4 linked regions of the Homo sapiens genome follow. The protein of the gene in region 2 purifies or fractionates together with the protein of the main gene of each other region. This does not show direct contact. Each region holds a gene or a part of one and is shown on either strand. Other genes may lie near its edges.

Evidence for each region. The genes of interacting proteins can lie anywhere in the genome.
Region 1: the proteins of ARHGAP44 (region 2) and BCL7B purify together in Homo sapiens (affinity purification with mass spectrometry; one large-scale study listed by BioGRID and IntAct). This does not show direct contact.
Region 3: the proteins of ARHGAP44 (region 2) and FNBP1L purify together in Homo sapiens (affinity purification with mass spectrometry; 2 studies listed by BioGRID and IntAct, with this or other methods). This does not show direct contact.
Region 4: the proteins of ARHGAP44 (region 2) and LMNB2 purify together in Homo sapiens (affinity purification with mass spectrometry, with the first as the bait; one large-scale study listed by BioGRID). This does not show direct contact.

What each region holds. Positions count from the first base shown.
Region 1 is NC_000007.14:73,538,274-73,540,690, reverse strand, and holds part of BCL7B (B-cell CLL/lymphoma 7 protein family member B), read left to right. Parts: intron 1-638; coding exon 639-809; intron 810-2,417. UniProt on the Homo sapiens protein: Positive regulator of apoptosis. Plays a role in the Wnt signaling pathway, negatively regulating the expression of Wnt signaling components CTNNB1 and HMGA1.
Region 2 is NC_000017.11:12,792,498-12,795,997, forward strand, and holds part of ARHGAP44 (rho GTPase-activating protein 44), read left to right. Parts: intron 1-3,500. UniProt on the Homo sapiens protein: GTPase-activating protein (GAP) that stimulates the GTPase activity of Rho-type GTPases. Thereby, controls Rho-type GTPases cycling between their active GTP-bound and inactive GDP-bound states. Acts as a GAP at least for CDC42 and RAC1.
Region 3 is NC_000001.11:93,531,618-93,535,117, reverse strand, and holds part of FNBP1L (formin-binding protein 1-like), read right to left. Parts: intron 2,197-3,500; coding exon 2,050-2,196; intron 414-2,049; coding exon 210-413; intron 1-209. UniProt on the Homo sapiens protein: Required to coordinate membrane tubulation with reorganization of the actin cytoskeleton during endocytosis. May bind to lipids such as phosphatidylinositol 4,5-bisphosphate and phosphatidylserine and promote membrane invagination and the formation of tubules.
Region 4 is NC_000019.10:2,439,960-2,443,459, reverse strand, and holds part of LMNB2 (lamin-B2), read left to right. Parts: intron 1-3,500. UniProt on the Homo sapiens protein: Lamins are intermediate filament proteins that assemble into a filamentous meshwork, and which constitute the major components of the nuclear lamina, a fibrous layer on the nucleoplasmic side of the inner nuclear membrane.

The DNA.
Region 1 (2,417 bases), on a different chromosome or scaffold from region 2:
AGCCGGCTAATTTTTTGTAATTTTAGTAGAGACGGGGTTTCACCGTGTTAGCCAGGATGGTCTCGATGTCCTGACCTTGTGATCTGCCCACCTCGGCCTCCCAAAGTGCTGGGATTACAGGCGTGAGCCACCGTGCCTGGCCTCGGCCTGGTAACTCTTAAGTTTTGCACCTTGATGGTGACTTTAAGCCTTCAGGCAGAACTCCCAGGTGCTAATCCGTCAGTCCGGCAGCCGAAGCCTGAGCTCACCACCTTCAGACACCACCAGCCTCCTTCAGATGCCCAAGGATGCCTGACAAATGTCATTTTCTACACATCTTATGATGTGAGAAGGATTGAGAAGTACTGACCAGAGACACAGCTACATCCCTCCCTTCCACAAGCTGCAATCAGTGGATAATAAAGAAGAGTTTAATAAGCATATCCTGACCTTCCTAAAGTGTAATGTTGCATAAACATAAAGATTCTGGCTGCCTCTGGTGCTTAGAATCTATGTCGTGTAGGCCGGGCACAATGATTATTATACTCAGTTGTATCCTTGGCTGCCTAAAGTGATGCCAGGCCCTTGGCTCTGTCCAGAGTTCCTCTTGAGGAAAATGACCACGCTCAGCTGCTGCCTTTGTTCTGTTTGGTTTTCAGACGAAAACAGCAACCAGAGTTCCGTGTCTGACGTCTATCAGCTTAAGGTGGACAGCAGCACCAACTCAAGCCCCAGCCCCCAGCAGAGTGAGTCCCTGAGCCCAGCACACACCTCCGACTTCCGCACGGATGACTCCCAGCCCCCAACGCTGGGCCAGGAGATCCTGGAGGGTGAGTCGTGGTTGGCCGAGGATGAGTTTCCTAGAAGGGCCTTGCTTTCTGCTCTTGTTGTGTCTCGTCTTTAGAGTAACAGGCTCGAGAGAGCACCTCAGAGCCAGGCAGCACCAAGCCCTTTCTCGATAGCTTAGGAATGATTATAGTTTCCCCTTTCACAGAGGGAAGGGAGAAAACAAGCATTAGAGTTGCGTGCCAGGCTGTGTGGAAGGAACTTGAGTATTTGACGCCTGCTATAATTCTCTCAAAAATCCTGTGAGGTGGCAGCTATTGTCTTCTTTTACAGATGAGGAAAATGGACATTCAAAGCTTAGAAAGGTTAAATTGGGCTGGGCATGGTGGCTCACACCTGTAATCCCAGCACTTTGGGAGGTCGAGGTGAGCGGGTCACTTGAGGCCAGGAGTTCAAGACCAGCCTGACCAACATGGCAAAACCGTCTCTACTAAAAACATAAAAAATTTAGTTGGGCGTGGTGGCATGTGCCTGTAATCCCAGCTACTCCGGAGGCTGAGGCAGAAGAATCACTTGAACCCAAGAAGCAGAGGTTACAGTGAGCTGAGATCACACCAGTGTATTCTTGCCTGGGCAACAGAGTGAGACTCCATCTCAAAAAAAAAAGACCTGGCGCGGTGGCTCACACCTGTAATCCCAGCACTTTGGGAGGCCGAAGTGGGTGGATCACCTGAGGTCAAGAGTTAGAGACCAGCCTGACCAACATGGTGAAACCCCATCTCTACTAAAAATACAAAAATTAGCCAGGCATGGTGGCGCAAGCCTGTAATCCCAGCTACTCGGGAGGCTGAGGCAGGAGAATCACTTAAACCCAGGAGGCAGAGGTTGCAGTGAGCCAAGATCGCACCAGGGCACTCCAGCCTGGCGACAGAGCTAGACTTCATCTCAAAAAAAAACAGAGAAAGGTTAAATCGCTTGTCTGAGATCACATAGCCAGTCTAGTAACTGTTGGAATGAATGTCACTTTAAGTCCTTCTATTTTCAGCATTTATGCTGTCTGCATTACATGCTAAATTTTTTTCTTTTCTTTTTTTTTTTTTTTTTTTTTTTAAAGAGATAGGGTCTTGCTCTGTTGCCCAGGCTAGAATGCAGTGGCTGAATCCTAGCTCACTGCAGTCTTGAACTCCTGGGGTCAAGTGATCCTCTTGCCTCAGACTCCGTAGTAGTAGGACTGTAAGCCTTTGCCACCATGCCTGGCTTTCTTTTAATTTTCTGTAGAAATGGAGTCTCACTATGTTGCCCAGGCTGGTCTTGAACTCCTGGGCTTCAAGTGATCCTCCCACCTCAGCCTCCAGAGTAGCTGGGATTATAGGTGTGAGCCACCATGCCCGACCCAGGTTTCTTGTTATAATATGGATATATAGATGTGTCTTAGGCCCTTGTTACCTTCTCCTGTGCTGTGACCTGTTAACAGCCAACTACAAAATGGAACTTGTTTCTCCATGGGAAATGCCAATTGTAGTTAATATTTATTGTGTTCTTACTATTTGGCATGTGCTGTTCTTAGCTCCTGTGTTTTATTACTTCATCTCGTCCTCATAGCAACTCTCAGAAAACTGGGAGATTGAGTTAGAGTTGTGATGTTTGGGCTA
Region 2 (3,500 bases):
TCTCCTCTATTATTGAGAATGTTTTGGGTCATGATCCTATGAGTATTGGAGTAAAAGAGCCCGCGGTTGCCTGTTAATTTCTTAAATCAGTAGAAGCACATAGGATTGGAATTTGGACTTTAGGTGTGCAGTTATAAAGCACTTGATTTTTATCCTTATATTTTTCTAAAGTTTTCCTCTTTCCGAGGGAGGACTAAGAGGACTTGAAAGTCCTTCCTCATGGCTCGCCTTCCCTAAGTTGCAGGTTCTGGAGTTCTGAATATAAAACTTAAAGTCATTTTAACAATGTAGGAGTTGCCCTACTTAAACATACTCTGCTGGGTTACTAGTACTTTCTCTCGAAGTGCTCACATCCAAGTCATATTAAGGGCGTCAGCGACTATGAAAAGATTTGATAAAACCCATTGTATTTAACTGACAAAAGTTTCAGCCCCTCCTTGGTCTGTTTCCTTAGTCTGCACGTGTTCCTTCTGCTTTGAACTTTCCCCTTTCTGTCCCTTCACTTCAATCCGTCCTTTGGGAAGCACTCCCTGGCCACTGTGTGCCTCATGGTTAGGAGCACAGGCTTTCCACTGGGACAGGTTTAGTTTGTTGCTGACTATGGAATCCAGAGCTTAATTCTCTGCACATTAATTTTCTTACTTGCAAAATGGGAGTAGTTAAGGATTGCACTGTGGTAATGTGGTAACCACAGTGATAACATAGATAACCTGTGAAAAGTACCTAGCAGTGCTCAGCACTAGGAAATGCTTAATAAATGGTAGCTACAAGTATCTCTGGGCAAATGTTATGACTGTTATTGAATTATATGCACTATGGCATATGTACCTTTATTAGATGTCTACTGTGTCCCAGACACTGCTCTGGTTCAGGGAGTATTGCAGTACAGGGCAAACAAAATTCCTGTTTGCCTGGAACCTGCATTCTAGGCCGGGCGTGGTGGCTCACGCCTGTAGTCCCAGCACTTTGGGAGGCCAAGGAGGGTGGATCACCTGAGGTCAGGAGTTCGAGACCAGCCTGGCCAACATGGCGAAACCCCGTCTCTACTAAAAATACAAAAATTAGCTGGGCATGGTGGCGGGCGCCTGTAATCCCAGCTACTGGGGAGTCTGAGGCGGGAGAATCGCTTGAACCCGGGAGGTGGAGGTTGCAGTGAGCCAAGCTTGCACCACTGTACTCCAGCCTGGGCGACAGAGTGAGACTCCATCTCACACAAAAAAAAAAAAAGGAACCTGCATTCTAAAAGCATGCTATGGTAATAATGGCTCACTTGTGTTATAATTTTTATCTTTTGTCATTTACTTTCCCCACTAGACTTTAAACTCTTTGGAGGCAGGGACAGCTGCCCTAACGCTGCCCTGTATAGAAGGTCCTCTGTCATTCTTTGGCAATGGAATGAGTAAGTGAACAAAAGATCCATGCGCTATAGATAGGGGAGTCTTTTGAAGTAGTTCAAAGATGGGGAAAGCTCCTGATACCATGTTTCTTTAACGTTGTGATGGTGGTCAGAGGAGAGAGGAACAGCTGCACTTCTGGGCATTGGAAGGGCAGAGCAAGATTTACGGGAGAATTTGGTTCTTGCCTGATTGATGGCAGCATTTTTCTTTTTACCTTCAAGAGAGTCTAGCAGTTGCTGGAGTGAGAAGCATACCGAAAGGCATAGAGTATTTTTCTTGGAAGTGACATTTGCTTGATGTTGGGTGGAGCAAAGCCCTGAGCTAAAATTTGGCACCCACGAGACCCACTAAGATAAAGCAAATGGAAGAAGTAATGGTACCTTGATTTGGTGGGGAGGACTTTTTTTTCCAGTCTGCACAGTGGGTTCACAGCGGCCCCATCCTCAGAGGGCTGTCATGAGGTTGGAGGGAGCCTGGTCCACTGAAGTCCTCAACAAATGGTTGAGGTGGTTCGTTGTCACTGAACACCCATTCAAGTCTTCCAAAAATAATGTTGGCCTCCTAAGTAGAAAAGGATTCTTAGAAACGATTTCAACAGCTACTGCCCAGTGATGGTCCAAGTGGGGCTTGTCCTCTTGTTTAAAATGAGTGATGTTCAAAGTGTCTGGGAGTAGGTGAGGAACTGTGGGTGTGCGGGAAGGAGAAGGCTGGTTGGGTCGGGTTGAATTGTGTGGATTTAGAGGCTATGAGTTGGGGAGTGAAGACAAAGTTTTGTCTCTGGAGCCTTGTTTTCTATTCCTTGACTGCTTTGCATACATTGCAAAGCAGGCTTGGTTTCTGGTGCACAGCTTTGCAGGTATCATTGCTGCTGTGCAGCTCTTGGAATTCAGCTGCAGAGGCCTAGGCATTAGCCAGTGGTGGGGAGCCTGGGAACTGGAGGCTGAGGCTGCAGCAGCCTCTAGGAGCACTGGTGCTGCAGACATTTTTGTCTGGGCCAAAGCTGCCAAAGTCAGTGAGGATCTTTTCCTTGAAGGTATCTCTGAGACATTGCCCTGCCTTGTAGTAGGCCTTCTAAGAGCCGTGACCCAATCAATAGGACATTAGAGGAAAATCAGAACCAATTCCAAATTTGGCTTTGGACTGCTTTGTTCCTTCCCTTCTATTTCCCTTACTGTGAGTTAGACCTGCCAGACCAACACAGGCCCTGCCATGGGCTTCCTGTTAGCCCAGCAGGGCTGGGCGGACCCAAACTCGTCCCCCAAAGAGCGCTGTGCACATTGAATGGGTCTCAGAGCAAAGTTTTTCATTAGAGTTTTATGGAAGCCCAGGCCTTACTGCCTGTTCTGCTGTATATATGTGAGAGATAACAGAGTGTACTAACCCACCGATTACTGGGTTAGCAAATCTGGAGAGAATATTCTTTGCTCTTATCTTCTAAGATCCTCACTGTGTGGGTCTGCTGGGTTTCACCTTCTGCTGAGCTGCTGTCAGCAGTCAGCCTGAAGCTGTCTAGATTTCCTGCAGAATTCTGTTATCCCAGACCTGCAAGTCATCGTGAGGAAGCCATGCTCTTAAATAGCAATTAATCATTTTCCTTCCCAGTTTGTCTCCATCAAAGTAATTTATCAATGATTTTTTTTTTTTAATGATGGGCAATAAGGACCATTTTTTTTTTCTCTAGAGAAAGTGGATCAGTAGCCATACAAATATACTGGTAATTTATGGTCATTCCTTTTAGAGGGGATTAGTAAGTATCCCTTTTATTAATAATCAAAAGCAGTTTATTTCAAATGCTATTTGATAAAGACAGCAAATAATAAAATTATGCTACATCTGTGTGGATGTAGTTGTAGGTCAGGCAGGAGGTTGGGGGGAGAGTCAGAGAGTCAGGCCTCTTCCCTCGGGCGTGGGGCATCCAATTGAGCTGGCACCTGGAACTCCACCGCCTTTGGGAAGCTTGTGGCTGTCTAGCAATTTCAAACTCTTCTTTCTGTCCAGGAAGCAGATGTTTTGCTTTCATTTTCCAACTTTAGAGCTTATTTTTAGAATAAATGTTTATTTTCCCACAGAATTCAATTTACTTTTTTTAACCTTCATTTTGGT
Region 3 (3,500 bases), on a different chromosome or scaffold from region 2:
TTACCCATTATTAAGCGGTAGTCAAATGTTAAATCCATAAATAACTGTTACTGTTAAGGTATTCCTAATATAAGTGAAAGGTTAACTGAATCATTCAAATTGAAAATATTTATTCTCCATTAATGGTAAATCATTTTGCATTCAATACCCACATTGTTTTAGTTGGTACACTTAAACTGATTAGCATATAGGAATTTTATGACTTTTACCTTTGGCTTCTTTCCAAAGAGCCACAATTTGCCCTTGGCCTTTCCTACTGTGGTTTTGGCATCCATCTTCCCACTCTCCTGTTTGGATGCACTGATAGTCCCATCAGAAATGGTTCTATATATATGTTGACTGTAATCTTCAAATGGAAAGTCTCCTGGAGGTTCAAAACCAGATTTGAAGGAGTCTACCACCATTTGAGAGTCCTATACAAAAGAAACTAGGTTTTAAAACTGTTTCACTTGCTCATAATTCTACATCAGCTTTCATAACTTTTTCAGTACAAAAAAACAACAAATATAAGTTTAAATAAATAATTCCACAATAATCATTAAGGTAAATAATTTATTCCCATGAATGTGTAACAAACTCAAAGTATTTTAATCCCAAAAGAAAAATATACTTGCAAATTACAACTTAATTAATTTATAATATTCATAAAATGTTTTTACTTGGTAGCTTTAACCACCTGAAATTCATCTGAAGACTACTTAGCTGAAAAAGACCTAACTGACAAAAAGAATACAGAAAGAGGTTATTAACAAGTAGAAATTCTGAGAAGTTTCAAAGGAAAAAGGCTTTTTGCTTTAAAAGATAGATGTCAACAAAGAAGCTAATCTTTGGAATGAGGAAAGAACATCTAATTGTAAAAGAGAGTAAAAGATGAGTAGGAAAGGCTTTCTAACTCATCCAACATGGGAAAAGATAAATAAATTAAATATATACTGTGGAATGTTAACAGAGCAACAGGGAAAAGATCTCATAAACACTACTGAGTGCAAACAACATTTGAAAGTTTAATACCATGTATTTAAAATTTTTAAACTCACATAAATATTGTTTTTAGACATACATACCTCTACCTGAATGCTTTAGTGATACCTTAAACTCATTATTTTCAGAGTATCTCTACAAATTCCTCCCCACCCCTAACAACAACCTCTCTTTTGTTGCCTATTTCTGTTAACAGTACATTTTGCCCTTCATTTAGTCAAAAGTCATCCTTAAGTCATAGCTTACTTTTGTCAGTAATGCTACCCTCAGCAATAATTTGCTAAAGGGTAATTAGAGAGAAGAGGGCTGTAATGATATTGTATAAACTTGTATCCAGCCATGCTGAAAGCCAAAAATCCTCTTTTCTAAATTTAAGTGAGAATTCTATTAGCTGTAACAGAAAGGATCCTCACTAATATAATATCTACTTGATAGGTTCATGAAGACTAAAATATGTGACACATATCTGATATCCTGCAAACACCAGTTCTCTTCTCTTGCCACTGCCTTTCCTCAGTTTCTGCCAACCATGCTTTTTGATCACTCAATCAACATTTACTGAGATAAAAGACCCTAGTCCTTAATCAAGATACAATGTGATTACCTATCCTCAAGGGGAGGAGGGCTATGCTGTTTCATCTGCACATAATGCCCTCCTTCCTCCTCCTCATTGGTCATCACTCCATATGCTACCCACATTTCTTGATCCAGCTCAAGTGCTAAAGGCAACTCTAACCACATACTTCTCTAAATTTTCACTAAACTAATATAATAGTATAACACAATTTGTAACACACAGTTCCTAGGTTAGACTCTTTGATAAGAACTGAAAACTTAGTGGGAGAAGAGAGTTAGAAATCTTTTTTTTTTTTTTAAGAAAGAATTAGAACTTTTGCATGTAGAATGAATCTCAGAACTCAAAGGAATCTATTGCAAGACATTCTTCTACAGAATATAATTTAGAACCACACATCAGATTACTTTATCCCTTTCTCAACTCATTTCACTAACTTAAACTGCACACCTAAACCAAACAGATGCATTCAAAGATAATTATTTAGCACTTACTCTTCTTTCATCAACTGATTTTGCTGCAAGAATCATTCCTTCCAAACATTTTGAAATGATGGGAATAACTTTGCGTTCTGAGTCAGCAAATCCTCTGTAACACTCACTGAGTTTAATAGTCCTTCGTTCGTCCATTTCTTGTAGTTGCTAATAATCAAGAATTTTTTTAAAAAGAGAAAACTGAATTTTTCAATCATTCTAAAGGAGTTCAATTAGTGATCCCCCATCAAAAATTAAATATTTCTACCCTCATAGTTACACTGTTGTTAATACCTTTTAACAAGTGCTATTGACTTATAATACTTAAAACCTGGGACATGCTAAACAACAAAAGAAAGAAAAAAAATAGTAAGGCACTTAGTATTGTTTTCCTAAAACCAGATGACACTGGGATTCTAGCCTTCTAAAAGGACCCCTTACTGGCTATCAGCTCCCTGCCCCATAGCACTCCCACCTTTTACTATTCAATCAGAGTAGTTCTTGTTTATGCTTCCAGAAAACATTTCATTTGATGACAAAATTCTGGTGCTTTTTTTTTTTTTTAAAGCAACTGGCCCATAACATATACAAGACTGAGACTTTTTTTTTTTTTTTTTTTTGAGGCGGAGTCTCGCTCTGTCGCCAGGCTGGATGGAGTGCAGTTGCGCGATCTCGGCTCACTGCAACCTCCACCTCCCAGGTTCAAGCAATTCTCCTGCCTCGGTCTCTCAAGTAGCTGGGACTACAGGCACGTGCCACCATGCCCAGCTAATTTTTGTATTTTTAGTAGCGATGGGGTTTCACCATGTTGGCCAGGATGGTCTCAATCTCTTGACCTCGTGATCCACCTGCCTCGGCCTCCCAAAGTGCTGGGATTACAGGCGTGAGCCACTGCCCCCGGCCAAGTCTGAGACTTCTAACCTCAAGTTAATTCAGGATACTTTGGTAAGACTTGGCTGGACCAACAGTCCATACTAGTTGTTTATCAACAGGTACCCAGACCTACTGCAGTGTACACCTCAGAGCTGGGGATACGTGAGGAAAAACAGGAAGTCACAAGCTCAAAGTGGCACATATAGAATCCTCACAACTGAAAATTCACTGGCACATGCCACTAGGAAATATGTTGGAACACATAAAGTCCAATAACTTAAAGGCATTTTTTTTTTGACATATCCTATTTGCCAGCACTGACCTTGCTGTTTCATTGACAGCAGTTACACTCCTTGTCTCCCCAAACTCCCACAGCCTGGGACTTTGAGACCTGCATTTTCACAGAATTGCTCCATAGAAAGGTCCAAATCCAAGTATCAGGCCCAAAACACAAAAGGTAGTTTATCTCCACAAGTTATAGTTTCCCCAGAATATGAAGACTTAACTACTAAGCCTAGAAAAGCATCACAGTGAAGACTGGCAGGCTTGGCCCTCTGGATTCAATGACCAGAATTCTGGTCCCCACTCCAGTTCATTAT
Region 4 (3,500 bases), on a different chromosome or scaffold from region 2:
GCTTGAGAATCCACGTTGTCCCTGAGTTGGAGTGTGGCCAGAGGAATGACCGGGGACCCTGTGTCCAACAGTGCCGGGGCCCCCATGCGTGGTTGCAGGTGACCTCTCCATCCGACGCCCTCCTCCTTCCTGGGCTGGCGCTGCTCCCGTGGAGAGCTGACTTCCCTTCCCCAACAGGAGACCCTCCAGGTCAGCCCAGGGACCACCGCCCGCCTGCCCGGGGCCTGGGGCTCCAGGAGGGACCATTTGTGCCCTGATGGTGGCCATGAGCCGGGGACCCTGGGGCCAGGCACCAGCCAGGACAGGCTGCCCACTCTCAGCACATCCCACACAGCACAGGTGCACCCCGGGACCTGCTCAGGCAGCAGCTCTGTGCTGTCTACCTCCAGCACCCACCGTGTTTAATAAGCAGGTTCATCAGTGGAGCCATGCAGGCTGTGGGATGACTAGAGCTTGGTCAGGGGTGCACGGAGCTCTGAAATGTCAGAACTACACCGTGCAGATGGGACAGAGCTGCTGCTGGCCCCGCACCAGGCGCCTCTCAACTGTTCACTTTAAGATGTTGAAATGTACAGGATGTGAATTTCACCTCAAATTAAAACATTAAAAAAAGAAAATGGTACACAGTGCCCGCCCTAGGTGTTGAGGAATTCCCAGTTCACAATCTCCTGAGCAGTGCGTGGCATCTACAGAGAGGCCCGTCTTTTCCTTTTCATTAAGACAGGGTCTCTGTTGCCTAGGCTGGAGCTCAGTGGCACAATCATAGCTCGCTGCAGCCTCGAACTCCCAGGCTCAGGTGATCCTGCCTCAGCCCCACCCCGAGTAGCTGGGACCCCAGGCATGCACCACTACACCCAACTAATTTTTTTTATTTTTTATTTATTTCCTTTTGAGACATAGTCTTGCTCTGTCACCCAGGCTGGAGTGCAGTGGTGCAATCTCGGCTCACTGCAACATCCACCTCCCAAATTCAAACGATTCTCCTGCCTCAGCCTCCTGAATAGTTGGGATTAGAGGCTCACACCACCTTGCCCAGCTAATTTTTTTACCAAGTTGGCCAGGCTGGTCTCAAACTCCTGGACTTAAGCGATCCACCCGCCTTGGCCTCCCAGAGTGCTGGGATTACAGATGTAAACCACCATGCCTGGCCTAATTTTTTTATTATTTGTAGAGATGAGGTCTCGCTATGTTGCTCAAGCTGGTCTTCAACTCCCAGGCTAAAGTGATCCTCCCACCTCAGCCTCCCAAAGCACTGGGTATAGGTATGAGCCACTGGGCCAAGCCTAATGTTTTTCTTATCCTAACAAATTTATCTCCAAAACCCCACAATGAGAGAAACACTGGGAGCAGCGTGCAGGACCTAACAAGCCAGAGCCTGCCACAAAACCCCGGGCACCCAGCTGAAGATTCTAACTCAGCACCTGGCGCTTAGGAAACGGGTCTGAGCCCTGGGAGCCCGCACCCTGCCTTCTGGGTGTGCCCTGCAGTCCTGCGGAACCCTGTGGTTTAGACCGAGTTGCTGAGGAGCTTCCCGGATTCCCCGATCTCCGCTCCAGTCCTCTGAGCTGGTCTGCAGCCTGCCTCTTCCACCTCACCCCTGGGCCTTTGCACTGCTGCTCGCCTGCCTGGAAGGCTCTTTCAGCAGCGGTGGCCCTGGCTCCTCCAGCACTGCTCCTTCAGGTCTCTGCCCCCAGGGTTGTCTCCCAGCCCCACTCCAGCCCTGCCCCCAGGCAACCTCCTGTCTGGTAGGCAGCCTGTGTCGCTGATGCCTCCCTCCGCAAGGACGTCCCGCAGTGTAAGGCAAGGGTTCTAGATGCACCTCTGGTGTGAGAGCGGTGCCTTCCACACAGCGGGCACTCGGGATTTGCCCAACAGATTCCACCTTCCCCCAAACCCCTGCAAAAATCCCCAGCAGGGCCGCAGGGCTCGCAGCCCTCTGAGCGAAAGGGCCTGGCCTGTGTGGCATGTGCTCAGAGATGCGGGATCTGCACCCCAGACCCTGCTGGAGATCTGCTCCATGTGGGGAAGTAGAGCTTAGTGTCCCTGAGGGCTGCGGACAGGGGTGCATCAGCCTTGTGGCCGAAGTCTCTGGCCTTCACGCCTCTCAAAAGCAAGCAGATGCCACACCTCTAGTGTGTGGAGAGCCCTGGCTACACCAGGTCCAGCGCCAGAGCGGCTGGCCGCCCTGCCCTGGCGGGACACAACCGGAGCCAGACCCGGGATTCAGGGTACCCGGCACGGATGCTTTTACCTGGCAGGTGGCCTTAGACCTGGTTGTCTGACCCCCGACCAGGGACCCCTCACACGAGAGACCTGTTTACACAGTGGCTGCCCCGTAGCTCGTGTCTGACCTGTGTCCAGGGTATGCCTGTCCGACCATCGCTCTGGCACTGGGATCCCAGCCTGGGGCAGCTCCTGGTTCTTCTGACAGAAGGCGCAAATTCAGCACAGCGATAGGAAACAAGTTTGAAGATTTATTACGGATCCTAGGCAGGGAGGGCACTGTGAGCTGGGAAGGCAGCCCTCCCTCCCCGGGTCACACAAGGAAGGAAGGAAGAGTCCCACAGAGAGTGAGAGCTTGGCAGCTAGTGAGAGAGAGAGGGAGATGGGTGGATGATGGATGGATGGCTGGATGGGTGGACGGATGATGGATGGATGAGTAGATGGATGGATGATGGATAGATAATGGATAGATAGATGATGGATGGATGAGTGGATAGATGGATGGATGGATGGATGAGTAGATGGATGAATGGATAGATGATTGAGGGATGGATGGAAGGATGGATGGATGGAGATGATGGATAGATGATGGATGGATGAGTAGATGGATGGATGGATGATGGGTGGATGGATAGATGGACAGATGAGTGGATGGATGGATGGATGATGGGTGGATGGATGGATGGATGATGGGTAGATGGATAGACAGTAATAGATAGAGCAATAGATAGATATAGCTATCTGTAAGGCTGGGTGCGGTGGCTCATGCCTGTAATCCCAGCACTTTGGGAGGCCAAGGCGGACAGATCACTTGAGGATGGGAGTTCAAGACCAGGCTAACCAACATGGAGAAACCCCGTCTCTACTAAAAATACAAAATTATCTGGGCGTGCTGGCACTTGCCTGTAATCTCAGCTACTTGGGAGGCTGAGGGAGGAGAATCGCTTGAACCCGGGAGGTGGAGGTTGCAGTGAACCGAGATCGCACCATTGCACTCCAGCCTGGGCAACAAGAGCGAAACTCCATCTCAAAAAAAAAAAAAAAGATACAGCCATCTGTAGAATTGATATATACGGACATAGATTATATAGATAAATACAGTTATTGATGGAGATATACTTAGACAGACATACGGTCACTTTCAGCTATGGGTCACTTTCATTTCTTGGGCAAATGCCTAGGTGGTCTTTTGAAAGGCCCTGGGGGACCAGGCGCAGTGGTTCACGCCTGTAATCCCAGCACTTTGGAGGCCGAGGCGGGCAGATCACCTGAGGTTG